Homo sapiens: one gene and its partner. Each later gene encodes a partner of the first gene's protein in a complex. Each region holds a gene or a part of one and is shown in the gene's direction. Other genes may lie near its edges.

Evidence for each region.
Region 2: the proteins of CEP250 (region 1) and FKBP1A are in contact, whole or in part, in a crystal structure (PDB 6OQA), measured with the Homo sapiens proteins. Residues at the interface, in NP_009117.2 of Homo sapiens: Gln2191, Met2195, Gln2198, Val2201, Leu2202, Asp2205, Ser2206, Gln2208, Gln2209, Gln2212; in NP_000792.1 of Homo sapiens: Gly20, Thr22, Asp38, Arg43, Lys45, Phe47, Lys48, Phe49, Met50, Lys53, Glu55.

The regions. Positions count from the first base shown.
Region 1 is NC_000020.11:35,458,331-35,465,603, forward strand, and holds part of CEP250 (centrosome-associated protein CEP250), read left to right. Parts: 5' UTR 1-44; intron 45-1,652; 5' UTR 1,653-1,775; intron 1,776-3,934; 5' UTR 3,935-4,037; coding exon 4,038-4,223; intron 4,224-5,244; coding exon 5,245-5,301; intron 5,302-7,273. UniProt on the Homo sapiens protein: Plays an important role in centrosome cohesion during interphase. Recruits CCDC102B to the proximal ends of centrioles. Maintains centrosome cohesion by forming intercentriolar linkages.
Region 2 is NC_000020.11:1,382,965-1,390,237, reverse strand, and holds part of FKBP1A (peptidyl-prolyl cis-trans isomerase FKBP1A), read left to right. Parts: intron 1-7,273. UniProt on the Homo sapiens protein: Keeps in an inactive conformation TGFBR1, the TGF-beta type I serine/threonine kinase receptor, preventing TGF-beta receptor activation in absence of ligand.

The DNA.
Region 1 (7,273 bases):
AAGGGTGCTGTCTTCCCTGTCTGATCCTTAGCAAAAGTAGGAAGGTAGGTCTTGTTCATTTCTGTACCACTGTGGCAGACTCCTGATACTGAGTTGAAATTCATGAGTGTTTATGGGATAAATTAATGTACAAAAGAAATGAATCTTTCCCTTTTTCCTGCAGTAATGATAACATTGGCTCAGTGGTTTACAGCTTAGAAGTACACTGACACTCATTATCTTATTTAGATGTAATCCAATTTGTTAGTTTGCCAGCTACTGCTCTTTTCCCTTTCTCAGGCACATTGAAATTTACTTTCCCTTTGGGGGCTCTGCTAGTTTATTCCTAGCAGATCTGATCTGGCAGTGTGTTTGTAAAAGGATGCTGAACTGTGTCTTGAGGAAGCTCAGAATGAAATCTGAATTTCAGAAAGATTCCTGAGATAATTTTTCTCTGTCTCTTCTCTTTTATTCTTGTTTTAATAAATTTTAGTTTTATGAGGATTGTTTTGGTTTTAAAAAACTTTAAATCATTTTTTAAAACTATTTTTTACAACAATTTTAGGGTTACAGAAAAATTGCATAGTACAGAGAGTTCCTGTATACCTTGCACCCAGTCTCCCCTTTTAGTATGGTATATTTGCTATAATGCAAATCTTTTTTTTTTTTTTTTTTTTTTTTTTTTGAGATGGAGCCTTGCTCTTGTCGCCCAGGCTGGACAGTGTTGGCCAGGCTGGTCTCGAACTCCTGACCTCAAGTGATCCGCCTGCCTCAGCCTCCCAAAGTGCTGGGATTACAGGTGTGAGCCACTGTGCCTGGCCATGCAAATCATTTTTTGAGATAAGTGGGGCATATAAAAATATAAACAAAATGAAGTTGCTTTATCTCTACAAGCCTCAGTTTCCTTATCTGCAAGATGAGGGGGGTGGACTAAATTTCTAAATAGCTTTAAAATTTTTTAATTATCTGCTAAAGTAAAATAATTATATAATTGTAATATAATTTTCTTTATTTGCTTAAGTATTACTAATACCACCTTGCCAAATCATGTTTGCAAGTTACTGACAGCCATATCCTAAAAGAAAACTTAATGAGAATTCATGGAACTATGTGTGGCAGGACTGCTTATTAGAGATATTAGGTTGAATGATGTGAAATTGCCATTTTTGTAGATAAAAAGTAATGAGTGAGGCTGGGCTTGGTGGCTCACACCTATAATGCCATTGCTTTGGGAGGCTTGGACCAGGGGGTGGCTGTCTGAAACCAGGAGTTCGAGACAAGCTTAGGCAACATGGCAAAACCTTGTCTCTACCAAAGAAAAAAAAAAAAAGCCTCGGTGGCACACATCTTCAGCTCCTCTGAAGGGTGAGGCTGGAGGATCCCTTCAGCCCAGGAATTTGAGGCTGCGGTGAGCTATGATTGCACCACTGTACTCCAGCCTGGGTGACAGAGCTAGATCCTTTCTCTAAAAATAATAATAATAATAGGATAATATTAGCAATTTCATATGGTTCAACCTAATGTTTTGGGATAGGGATTCAACAAAGTGTGAGGGGGCCTTTGAGACCTCATAAACTCCCACTGCATGCAAAAGCCCGGCTCAGCCCTCACCATACTAGGAGAGAAAAGGCTCCTCAGTTCCCTTGGAGTAACTTGGATCTACATTATTGTAGGTAGAGTTGTTGGCAGAAATCCTGGGATAAGAGAATAGTTTCCTGGAAGATCTGTGCCTCCAACCAGCAGAGAGGGATTGAGCTTCATTGAACTCAACAGAGCCAACATTTCATAGCACCATGGTGAGTTGGTCACACAGCCTTGGCAAAAAGGCTGAAAAGGAGGGTGTAATAGTATGGGGAAAGGTTGTATTCCCCTGGTTCGTAGGCTAGGAAGAGGCCTGGAGTACTGGTGCCACCAAACCTTTATTGGTGCCATTCTATTCTCCCTACTTTATGCACTTTCCTTACTGCCTAGTACAGGCTCTGCAAACTCAAGTATCTTCGGTTGTTCAGGAGGTAATGTAAATTAGTAAGCCGAGTTTTCCTCTTTAATGCTACTATAACAGAAACAATAGCACAGTTGCAATGATAAATGACAACTGAAATATGCTATCATTGTGAGGGAGAGAATCGGTGTGTGCATAGGGGAGGCCATGATGAACTGGAGAGCACATGCCCTGTCTAAAGGGGGCAGGCACTATACAACTGTGCAGAGCACACGCCCTGTCTAAAGGAGACAGGCGCTGTTCAACTGCACGGAGCGCGTGCCCTGTCTAAACGGGCAGGCACTATTCAACTGTGCAGCTGGTTGTTGCCTTATTGAAATATGGGTCAAGCATCACTGGGTATTCTGATTTTCCAAAGGAGCCAGAAATATGGATTTTATGTACATTCTCCCAATGATAAATGTTGGCACCTAATTTGAATTCTTAAAAACTATTATGTGGGCCACACAATGGCTGAAAAGAGCTAGCAGGGCACTGATTTGTCATCTCTGGCTTATGGCTTAGCTCTGCCAGGAGTGAGGCTCACATGCATTTCTTCACTGGACATTGTTGACAAGTTACAATTAAAATGAATTAGACAGCTCCTGCCTTTGAGGTACTCATGGATTAGCAGAGAAAATAGACAAGTAATGATGATAAGATGTAGAGTAGACATCAGAACATATGTATTCTCTCTGTGTATATAGCTATAAAAGTGACTAACTCTTCCTGGGTTCATCTGGGAGGACATGATAGGACGTGGCATTTGAGCCAGGATGTGGGAAATCAATAGTTTGGTGCATTAAAGGGATTTGGGGCCCTTGAAATTTCTACTGTATGTGCAAATGTTAGGTTTGCATTCGCTGTATATACCATTTTGTTGATAGGTAGTTGAAAATACGGATATTCCTTAGCCCTGCTGGTGAGAGTCTTAGGGTTAATAAAATGAGAGAACTCTTCCTCTGGCCCAGGTTATGGGATAATTGTGTGTTTTAGAGGCCTAAGTAACTCAGAGGTCATGATACCCTCATTTCTGGATGAGGGAAGTAGCACATCTGAGGTCACAGAGCCCATTGGAGGCAGAGCTTGGACTAACACCCAGAACTCTTTACCACCATGCCTTCCCCTGTCCTGGGTATCTCTGATGAAGGTCACCGTTAGGCTGGCCGCCTCTGCCTGTGGTGGCCCATTGCCCTGTTTTGGCCCAGCTCCTGGTGGGTGAGGGGGTTTGGCCATCCTGCTGCCACTGGTTCCTTCTCTCTTTTGGATCCTTTGCCTGAAATGCCTGCTACCCCTTTTCTTTGTCAGATAGACTACTTGTGTTCAAATCTCTCTCAACCATATGCCAGCTGTGTGGCCTGGCACAAGTTTTTTAACCTTTCTAAGCCCCAGTTTCCTCATCTATATATAAAGAGTTATAATAGTACGTTTGGTGAAGTGTAATGAGAAGGCATTGGAAGGTTTCAAGATTTTTGTAAAAACAAAATGACGTAATGCATGTAAAGCACTTAAAGCAACAGCCCTCCAGAAGCACTCAGCAAGTGTTAACAATGATGATGATGATTCACACAGTTCACAGGCTCCCAGGCTGGGTTCTCTTCCTTTGTTTTCTCATATTATCTTATTATTTCACATGCTACATTGTATGTATTGTAATAGTTTGTGTCTATTTCCCCTGCTAGACTAAGAACACCTTCAGCGATTCATTCAACAAATGTTTCTGAACCACTGTGCCAGGAACTAAGGATGCAGTGATAAACCAGGAGCTCTTGGTTTAGTGCAGAGTTCCAAAAGTCATGCCAGGAGACACTAGTCCTGTGAGCTTGTCTCATGGTCAGTTAAATTTGGGGAATGATGCTCATCATAGCGCCCTTCAGAGATGAGGGTCCCTTTTAGTATTTTAAAGGTTCTGAGGAGTCTTGTGTGTAGTAAAAGAACAGTCCTTTCCATTTGACTATGTGCTTTGGTCCCCAGTTCAAGAGGAGGTTGAAGTGGCATGGCAATGGTTAGAGACCCTGCTGGGCGTGAACACCCTCTGGCTACCTAGGGACCTGTGGGCCTACCACCTGGTGCCCTCATGGAGACAAGAAGCCCTGGGTTGAACAACATGAAGCCCCAGTCACTGCAGCTGGTACTGGAAGAGCAGGTGCTGGCACTACAGCAGCAGATGGCAGAGAATCAGGCAGCCTCCTGGCGGAAGCTGAAGAACTCCCAGGAGGCCCAGCAGAGACAAGCAACCCTTGTGAGGAAGCTGCAGGCCAAGGTGAGGCAGCTGCCCTTTTGGGGAGGGGAAAGAGAACAACCCCCAGAGCTAGGTGCTGAGGTGAGATAAGGGTTGCAGGAGGCAGAGTCTTGTGGTGGGAGTGGCCTACATCTAGCATGGTGAGATAAGACCCAGACCTTCTAGCTTTCATGTACAGCTTCTCTTTTGATGCTCACAACTGCTCCATGAGGTACGTATTATATCCTTTTAATTTAATTTTATTTTTGAGATAGGGTTTTGCTCTGTTGCCCAGGCTAGAGTGCAGTGGTATGATCACAGATCGCTGCAGCCTCAACCTCCTGGGCTCAGGCAGTCCTCCTGCCTCAGCCTCTGGAGTATCTGGGACCACAGGTGTACACCACCACTTTTGGCTAATATATCTCTTTAAAGATGAAATTCACAAGGGTTAAGTTAATTATCCAGGTTTCTTCAGCTAGTCTAGAGCCAAAGCCCATGATCTTGCCTCTGTGATATAAAAGGCATATAGAAAGTATTTATTTATTTATTTATTTATTTTTGAGACAGAGTCTCGCTCATATAGAAAGTATTATTTAAATGCCCAAATAAGGCCAGGCACGGTGGCCCATGCCTGTAATCCCAGAATTTTGGGAGGCCGAGGCAGGTGTATCACCTGAGGTCAGGAGTTTGAGACCAGCCTGGCCAACATGGCAAAACCCTGTCTCTACTAAAAATACAAAAATTAGCTGAGTGTGGTGGCGCATGCCTGTAATCCCAGCTACTCGGGAGGCTGAGTTAGAAGAATCACTTCAATCTGGGAAGCGGAGGTTGCAGTGAGCCAAGATTGTGCCACTGCACTCCAGCCTGGGACACAGAGCGAGACTCCATCTCAAAAAAGAAAAAAATGCCCAAATAGAAACTATAAGATGTTATGGCCTTACCTTACTGTCACCACCCATTTCCCCTGTTCATAGCAAGTTTGCCTAAGATCCTCAGGGGCCTTTGCTTTGGGCTGTTTGTGCCAGCTGTGTTCATTGCCCAGGGCCTGTTCTTTTTGCTGCAGGTGCTGCAGTACCGAAGCTGGTGCCAAGAGCTGGAGAAGCGGCTAGAAGCCACTGGAGTGAGTGAGGCTGAGCTCTCTGCACCCCCTGGGTCCTCAGTGAATATACTTGTTAGGTTTCATTTGTTGACTGAGGGAGGTTGGAGTGTACAAGTGAGGTGTTTGGTGGAAGGCTCTCTTTCTCAGCCTCTGAGAGGTTTATCACACTGATATCTTCATTGGACCTAGCTGGCCTGTCAGATTCCAACCCTTGGTTTTCAAAGGACGAAATGTAAATTAGATTGGAAGGAGTGTGGGATTAGCAGGAAGAAGTGCATGTTTCCTCCAGCAGGTGTCAGTGTTTCTTTTAGAAAGATGCAGGCCTTTGCGAGCCTACAGCATGTCTGCAGCAAAGGGATGTCTGTGCTATTAGAACTGGCTTTGAAAAACCCATTTATTTGCCTTTGTTCCAGCTGCCTCTCAGTACCTCCTCACATTTTCCTCAGAAAAGTTCTCTCAGAGGAAGGAAAGAACCAAAACTTATTGAGCACCCTCAATGCAGTCCAGGCAGCATGAGGCACTGTCATATACAGATGGTCCTCCCCAACTTAGGATGGTTGCAAGTTTTCAACTTTATGATGATGTGAAAGCTATATGCATTCAGTATGTTCCTTGGGTTATGATGGGGTTACAGCTGGATAAACCCATTGTTTGGGGTTGTTTTGCTTGCTTGTTTGGTTGGTTTTTGTTTGTTTGGTTGGTTGGTTGTTTTGAGACAGGGTCCTACTTACTCTGTCGCCCAGGCTGGAGTGGACTGGTGCAGTCATGAGTCACTGCAGCCTCAGCCTCCTGGGCTTAAGCGATCATCCCACCTCAGCCTCCCAAAAAGTAGCTGGGACTACAGATACATGCCTCAACATCTGGCTAATTTTCTTTATTTTCTGTAGACACAGGGTCTCTCTATGTTGCCCAGGCTGGTCTCAAATTCTTAGACTCAAGCAATCCTCCCACTGCTGGGATTACAAGTGTGAGCCACTGCATCTGGCCCGAACTCACTGTTAAGTTGAAAATATCATAAGTTGAAAATGTCAGCCAGGCGCAGTGGCTCATGCCTGTAATCCCAGCACTTTGGGAGGTCATGGTGGGTGGGTCACAAGGTCAGGGGTTCAAGACCAACCTGGCCAGCATGGTGAAACCCCATCTCTACTAAAAATACAAAAAATTAGCCGGGCATGATGGTGCGTGCCTGTAATCCCAGCTACTCGGGAGGCTGAGGCAGGAGAATCACTTGAACCCAGGAGGCAGAGGTTGCAGTGAGCCGAGATCATGCCACTGCACTCCAGCCTGGGCAACAGAACTAGACTGTCTCAAAAAGAAAAGAAAAAAAGAAAACGTCGTAAGTTGAAAACACACCTTTAACTTATGTTCAACTTATGATGGATTTATGGGATGAAATTCCAGCATAAGTCAAGGAGCATCTATAATTGTGTCTCTTAACCTGCACAGCAACTTTCTGAAGGGAACGATATACCGCTTTCATTTTGTAGCTGGAGACACTGTAGCTCCAAGAAGTTAAGTGACTTCACAGGCTGGGTGTGGTGGCTCATGCCTGTAACCCCAGCACTTTGGGAGGCTGAGGTGGGTGGATCACTTGAGGCCAGGAATTCAAGAACAGCCTGGCCAACATGGCGAAACCCCATCTCTACTAAAACTACAAAAATTATCCAGGTGTGGTGGCAGGTGCCTATAATCCCAACTACTTGGGAGGCTAAGGCAGGAGAATCACTTGAACCTGGGAGGCGGTGGTTGCAGTGAGCTGAGATTGTGCCATTGCACTCCAGCCTGGGCGACAGAGCGAGACTCTGTCTCCAAAAAAAAAAAAAAAAAAAATGAAAGAAGTTAAGTCACTTCCCAAGGTCAAACCGTTAGTGTAGTGGAAGTTAAGGCCATTAGTGAAAGATACATCACTTCTTAAGTTGAAGATTCTATTTACTACTGAAGGCCGTCTTTCAGGAGAGGTCATCAGTTTACTTTTGGAGTGAGGGATGCAGTG
Region 2 (7,273 bases), about 34 Mb from region 1:
TCCAGTCAGCTCTTGCCAGGTGTCCACTCAGCTGATTTGGGCACGGGTCCAGAGAAAGAGGGGTGGAAGTAAGGTGGCCAAAATCTCCCCTTAGCCATCACAGGTGTGCAGAGCACAGACTGACCTTTACCACATGGATGCTTTAAATGCCACTAATGGCTGTCAGTCACCTTGATGTCACTCTCAAGGGTCCCTCTGGTGACTTCCGTGACCTTCTGGCAGAGCACAGCATGAGCAAGGCCTCAAAGGAATGCCTGCACTACCTCTGTGGTACCAGAGGGAAAATACAAAGTTCACTATCACCAGCTAAGCATCTCCTAGGAGCATGACAGGCATTGAGGTGGGAGGGAGGTGGTGGAAAGGTAAGCTGCCAAGTAAGTGCCTTTAGGAGCCAGGGAATTCTCATGGCGCCTCCCTGCTGCCTCCAGTAGCTTCGTCATCTTTACTGTTAGCTTGTCCTGGCACACAGCTAGGTTTAGACCTCTTTTACTTACTTCAGCAGGCCGTGTGCCTGCCATTGTGAGAGCAGCCCCAAGGGGATTGAAGGAATGTTTTCTTTTTTCTTCTTAAAAAGTAACTAACTGGACATTTTGTCCTTGGGATCAGGTTTAAGTCAGGTATAGCCTCCCGGTTTCTGACTGAGAAAAACCAGGAGCCCCTCAACCTCATGTCCTCAGGAGGTTGACTGGGAAGGCTGCTGAGGCTCCCGGGACAGGTGTGGCCACTTTGCTGCAGCCTCCCTCAAGCCCCTTGCTTTTCCTTAGCTTTGTTCCCCCCTCTCCTCTGCTTTATTCCATCCACTCCCTTGCTAGGTATCTCTTGGTTGGTGATCTGATGTCTGGAGGGAGGCTCACCCTCAGCAGAGATGCCTCAGATGGCTTCCCCTGACGTGTGCTGTCTTGAGGCACACAGGCTGTAACTGTTGGGCAGGGCTGCAACAAGTCCCTTTGCCTTCCCACAGCAGATGTTTTTTGAGCAACAGCAGCAAGCCAGGCTCTAGGGACATGGCTAGTGAACTAAATAGACAAAGACCTGATCTGGTGGGGCTTTGCTTATGATGAGGAGACTGATAGTATGGCCATGGAGCACATCAGGTAGTAAGAAGCGCTGGAGAGATTAAAGCAGAGTGAGGGATGGGAAGGGAAGTTGGCTGCTTTTCGTGAGGGTGATTGGAAAAGGCCTCTGAAAAAAATGGCATTTTAACATTCACTCAAAGGACATTGGAGAGGGAGCTACAGGGCTGTCTAGAGTATCCAGGCAGAGGGAAGAGCTAGTGCAGGACCCTGAGGCTGGAGCCTGCTCGGTGCATTAGAGGAACAGTAAGAAGACCGGTGCGTTAGAGGAACAGGAAGTGGATTGTGTGAAAGGGTATGTGGCAGGAGATGAGGGGATGGTGGAGCCTCGTTGGTTTTTATAAAAACGTTGCCTTTTTCTAACTCAGGTGAGAGCCACTGGCTGGCTTGGCTTTTAATGCCCGCCCCCGCCCCCCCAACCCACGCTCCTTCTGGCTACTGTGTGGACAATGGGCTTTTGGGGGCAAAGGCAGAAACAGGACACTGGTTGTATCCCAGGTGTGTGGAGTGCCAGCTCAGGCAGTGGGCAGAAGTGGTGCCAGGTGGACAGTGATCCCCAAAGAGCATGTGGGTTCTTCGCTGTGTTCTGATCTTGACCCTGCCATACAACGGGCTATGAGAGCTTGAACAAATTGTCCCACAGTTCCCAGCTTCCACATGCTGTCTATAAAATGGGAGTAACGATGCCTGCTGTGAAGCAAATGCCTATCGAGACTACCCAGTTGTCTCCAAAGTGTTGCTCTTTTTTAAAACCACAGTTCCATTGAGCCTCACTCATCGCAGTTGTTATGTCTGTAATCTCAGTCTAGAAGAGTCCTTACGCTGTTTTTTTCTTAATAACTCTGATTTCTTCAAAGAGAGCAGGCTAGTTATAGAATACTCCACATCTGTCTTACTGTTTTCTCATGGTATTGTTTAACTTGTTCCCTGCCTTGATTTTCTGAACCGGATGTTTAATCTTTTAAGTGTCTGAATAGATTCCGTTTAAACATTTTAGTGTGAGTACTTCATCCTCAGCACACATGGGAAACATCACTAGTTGTGATGCTAAATTTGATCTTTTCTGTAAAGGTACATTTTTCCCTTTGCATTTAGCAGTGATCTGTGGAGTGCTTAGGTAGCCATAGATGGTCTCTTGCTCATCAGCCTTTCACCTAGTGGTGTTTACACCATCTGATCATTCTCCCCTGAAGAAGTCACTGGCATTCACAAAGTGTTGATTTTTAAAATTCCTTCATTCTTTCTAAATTTATTAGCTGTTATCCTTCTATAAGATAAGGTAAAGTAATTCTTTACCTTTAAATACCAAATTTTATTTTTATTTTTTGAGACAGTGTCTCTGTCACTCAGGCTGGAGTGCAGTGGCTTGATCATGGCTCACTGTAGCCTCGACCTCCCAGACTCCCATCCCGGCCTCCCATCCGGCCTTCTGAATAGTTGGGCATACAGGTGCATGCCACCTGTCCTAATTTTTGTATTTTTTGTAGAGACGGGTTTCGCCAGGTTTCCCAGGCTAGTCTCAAACTCCTGGCCTCAAGTGATCCACCCTCCTTAGCCTCCCAAAGTGCTGGTAGTACAGGCATGAGCCACCGTGCCCAGCCTTTAATTACCAATTTTTAAAATGAAAAATGAATGTTAACTGATGGGGTATTGCCATTCCCAGTGGGGGCAAGTGACTTTTTCCCCCTCTATTTGCTTTGACTGTACTGTGGGCTGAAATTTTTTGTCAGGGCCTTAAGATCAATGATACCCATTATTCTTTTTGATGCTAATATCATCCTAAATTTGGCCAGTAGGAGCCCTTTAAGCTGGCTCCAGTACCTTTTTGACAGGCTCCCACCATTCCTTCATCCATTTCTCGGTTTCACTACTCTGGTCCAATTATCAGCCATCTTTCAAAGAGCTCTGGTTCCTTTCAGTGGGGTCCATGACCTTTTTTTTTCTTGGTAACAGCTTTATTGAATATAATTTACATACCATAAATTCACCTATTTACTCATAGATGTTTTAACTAGAACATTTTTAGGCTTAAACTGATTTTTATGAATTACTGAGGGGTTTATTGTATCCATAAACTGGAAATCATTTGTCTGCCTTGGAATTTTCTCTAAAAATATTGTCACCTGCTGTTTCCCATGGAAGAAGCCAAGGTTATGAATAACTTAATCACATAGCATTCAGTTCTCCCTTTGGTGCTCATGGTGACATTTGTTTATTTTTACTTCTATTTTTTCTTCTGTTTTTTTGTTTTCTTTTCCTGCTAAAAAGCTTAACCAAGTCTCTGCATTCCCTCCCCTGGACCCCTTTGATTTTGACCAGGTGTATTCTAGCAGTGCAGAAAGTCGGGGAGGTAGAAATAACCAGTTCTTAGATGCTACTGTCTCTTTCTGTTACATTTGCTCTTCCTCTCCCAGGAGCTCAAGCCACCTTGGCCTGCATTCATTCCTCGAATGCTCCAAGCCTTTTCCCACATGGAGGTCTCTGCCCCTTTGCTTAGGTGCCACCACACTGCCCCCACTCCCCACTGCATGACAGGCTCTTTTCTTTATAGCACAGCTTAAGTAACACTTTGGATGCATACATGCATGCTTCTAATTCTGCAACAATGCACCCATCTATTTTCTTAGCCCCCATCATAGTCAGGATCCGTGTAGTTAAACATCTGCTCTTTCCCCAACCGACTGAAGGCTCCAGGAGGCCAGACCCACACTAGTGTTGTTCTCCAAGGTCTCCCCATCAGTCTTGGCATAGAGTAGCTATTCAGTGACTGTTTGAATGAGTGGCCAGTTAGGACCTGGCATTCCCTCGGTCACTCAGTGAATATATAAGGAGCTGGGCAAAGCCTCAATGTTGCCCTCAAGAAGCTTACCCTGTAGGGAGTGGTCAGTTACAATGAAAGTACCTCAGGCAACCTACACCTATAGGCTAGAACTTCTTGGAGGAAGTGCCATTTGGTCTTGGGTGTGTATGGTGCAGTCAGGCAGGAGGAAAGCGTCTTCCAGGTATATACACAGGCCAGGAGGAGAAAAGGGTACCTTTGATATTTCTGTAAGTACTTGATGAATGTCTGCTATGTACAAGACACTGTCCTGGCTACCAAGAATTTAGGAGTGAAGAAGACACAGTTCCTGCCTTCATCTCACACTGTAGTGGAAAAGACATAATAAATATGATTAATAAGCAAGACTGTTGTGTATAAGCTAGTAAGTGTTAAGGAGGGAATAGGAAAAGGTTGAGGTTTTAGATAGATTGGCAAAGGCCTCAATGAGAAAGTGACATTTGAGCAAAGACTTGAAGGAGGTAAGGATGTAACCTATGTGACTGTTTGAGCAAGATCATTTTAGGCAGAGAGAACAGCAAATGCAAAGGCCCACGGGTGGAGGTATCCCTGGTGTGTATGTAGAACATAAGGAAACAATGTTCTGGGACTGGAAAAGTACAAGAGTAATCAGAGGTGAAGTCAGAGGGATGGTGGTAGGGGCGGAGGCTTGACACTTCTTAGAGGGTCTTGTAGGCCATTTTAAGAGTTTTATCTCCTGAGATGGGGGAGTCACAGGAGTTTTTCAGCCGAGGGGTAGTAGGGTCTGGCTGCTGTGTCAGGTTTAGACTGTAGGAGAGCAAGAGCAGAAGCAGGGAGACCAGGGAGGGAGTTGTAATAATAGTCTGTAACAGAGGTCCAGAACTCATGCCTTTAACCATTATACCCTATAGAAAATGCATATTTCTACCACTTCCAGCTAGCTATTGTTAAGTGGTATTTCTTTTGATTTTTTTGGAGATGGAGTCTCACTCTGTCGCCCAGGCTGGAGTGCCCTGGTGCAATCTCGGCTCACTGCAACCTCTGCCTCCCGGGTTCAAGCAGTTCTCCTGCCTCAGCCTCCCAAGTAGCTGGGACTACAGGCGCACGCCACCATGCCCGGCTGATTTTTTGTATTTTAGTAGATACAGGGTTTCACCATGTTGCCCAGGCTGGTCTCAAACTCCGAAGCTCAGGCAGTCCACCTGCCTCAGCCTCCCAAAGTGCTAGGATTACAGGCGTGAGCCACTGCACCCGGCCTAGTGGTATTTCTTTCTCCCCCTCCCCATGCGATATAATGTGGTAGTAACTCCTCTTATTTATACTGTGATTAAAGTGGAAAATGGAGAGACACACCCACAGGGCATGCATTCTGGTCTGTGTTCTTTTTATTGCCGTTGGATCCTGCATATTCTTCCCATCATGGGCCCTGCCTTTGAAAATACACTTTTGGTTATAGGATCTAAAGGGATTTAGCCAAAGGTTAGAAGCATTTCCATACTGCGTATGGGAAATGTGCTTGCACTGTTGGTGATCTCAGGAAAATGATAGTGAGAGTGAGCTGGTTCCCTCTTTGGGTTGGCACTTGGACCTTTGGTCATACCCCTCACTCATAAGGAGTTCTCAGAACCCCACTTCAGGGAGGTTGTGCTGGAATACAGCCACAGAGACCCAGAAATGGAATAATAAGAATGTAAGATTTGAATTTGTATCTTTTGCCTATCTAAATGTAGAATCCCTTTTTACCCATCATGATTGAGACAAGTGGGTAGTTGGTATGCTAACATAAAAGTGACATGGCTTCTGTAAACATTTGATTTCAAACTCTAACATAAATCATTTGCTAAAGGACTATGTCTTTATCTTTGAGGATGGCTCTGCTAGTGGAGTTTCCCATCATAGTTCTTGCAAAAACCAATTTGACCTTTTTTAAAGTAGAGCAAAGAGTATTGTGAGAACATTTAAAAACCAAACCTTTCCAGATTTTTAAGATTTCTTTCTCTAAATGTAGTCTCCCATATGATTATTCACTAGCAATAGTTTTTTAGTGACTTGCCTTTATTGAGTCTTTCCCAGGAGTCAGCTAGAACCGCTGTTTGTATTCACACTCATTTTATTGATTTACATACTATTTAATTACATTATATTTACACAGTAAATATAGCTACCATAAATGGATTTGGGGACAAACACAGCTAACCACTCCTCCCTTTGTGAACACAGAACTCATATGGGAATGAAGAAGTGATCATGAGCTAGAGACTAAAGCATGAGGGGAGTGCTCTTCACTATGCTGGGGTACGAAGGCTGTGAGTTTTATGAGTCTCCAAGTAAGGCAGCTGAGTAAAAGGTGGTTAAGAGAACTTCTGTGTCTAATAAGAAGAGGGAAAGCAAACAGCTAAACCATTAGACCTTGAGCCATACGCCCATCTGGGAATGTTCTGAGTGGCTTCAAATGCAAAGCTGCAGAAAAATACTGGCTCCCCCTACCTCCACCCATTCAACCATTACACCTTTTTTTTTTTTTTTAAGAGACAGAGTCTCGTTCTGTTGCCCAGTCTGGAGTGTACTTGTGCGGTCATAGCTCACTGCAACCTCAAACCTCTGGGCTCAAGTGATCTCCCACTTGATCCACTCAAGTAGCTAGGACCATGTCTGGCTAAATTTTTTTTTTTTTTTTTTTAATTTTTTGCAGAAACAGGATTGGGGACATGAGTCTTGCTGTGTTGCCCAGGCTGGTTGCAAACTCATGCCAGTCTCAAACTCCTGGCCTCAAGTGATTCTCCTGCCTTGGCCTTCCAAAGCACTGGGATTACAGGCATGAGCCTCCTCCGCAGCTGGCCTCATTGTACTTTTTGTCATTAAGAAACTCACCTGCGTGTTGAAAGTAGAAATCCTTTTCCCTCTCCAAACTGTAAATGGCAAGGACTTTATTTTATTTTGAAGGTTTGGGGCTTAGGATATTCTGGTTTTTTGTTATGTTTGATTTTTGGTTTAGTTTAGTCATTTTTTTTTTTTTAATCTTAAAACTTCCCATATTTTGTCCCTGTAAAATGCTGCCTATAGGAAACACTCCTGCAAAGATTCATGAGCAACTATAAACTGCATTGTGAGTCATGAGCTTTCACTACAAGTAGTGAAGCCATAAGTCTGTAGAGGTGCCTTCTTCAGTCCTGTTACCCAGTAGAAGGTATATGGCACTCTGCCCTTCCCCAAAGCAGAGTGCCTTGGAAGTGACTCCATTTCTATTGGGTTATTAGTGAAATAGTATCCCAGTGGTCCTTGTGAATCTCCAGGTCCTGGTCTTGAGTCTTAACCACCGCTTCAGTGGCTTGAGCCAACCACCAGGAACACAGTCTGGGGATACTTTGCTGCCCAGGAGCTGCTGGCCAGGTCTCCCTCT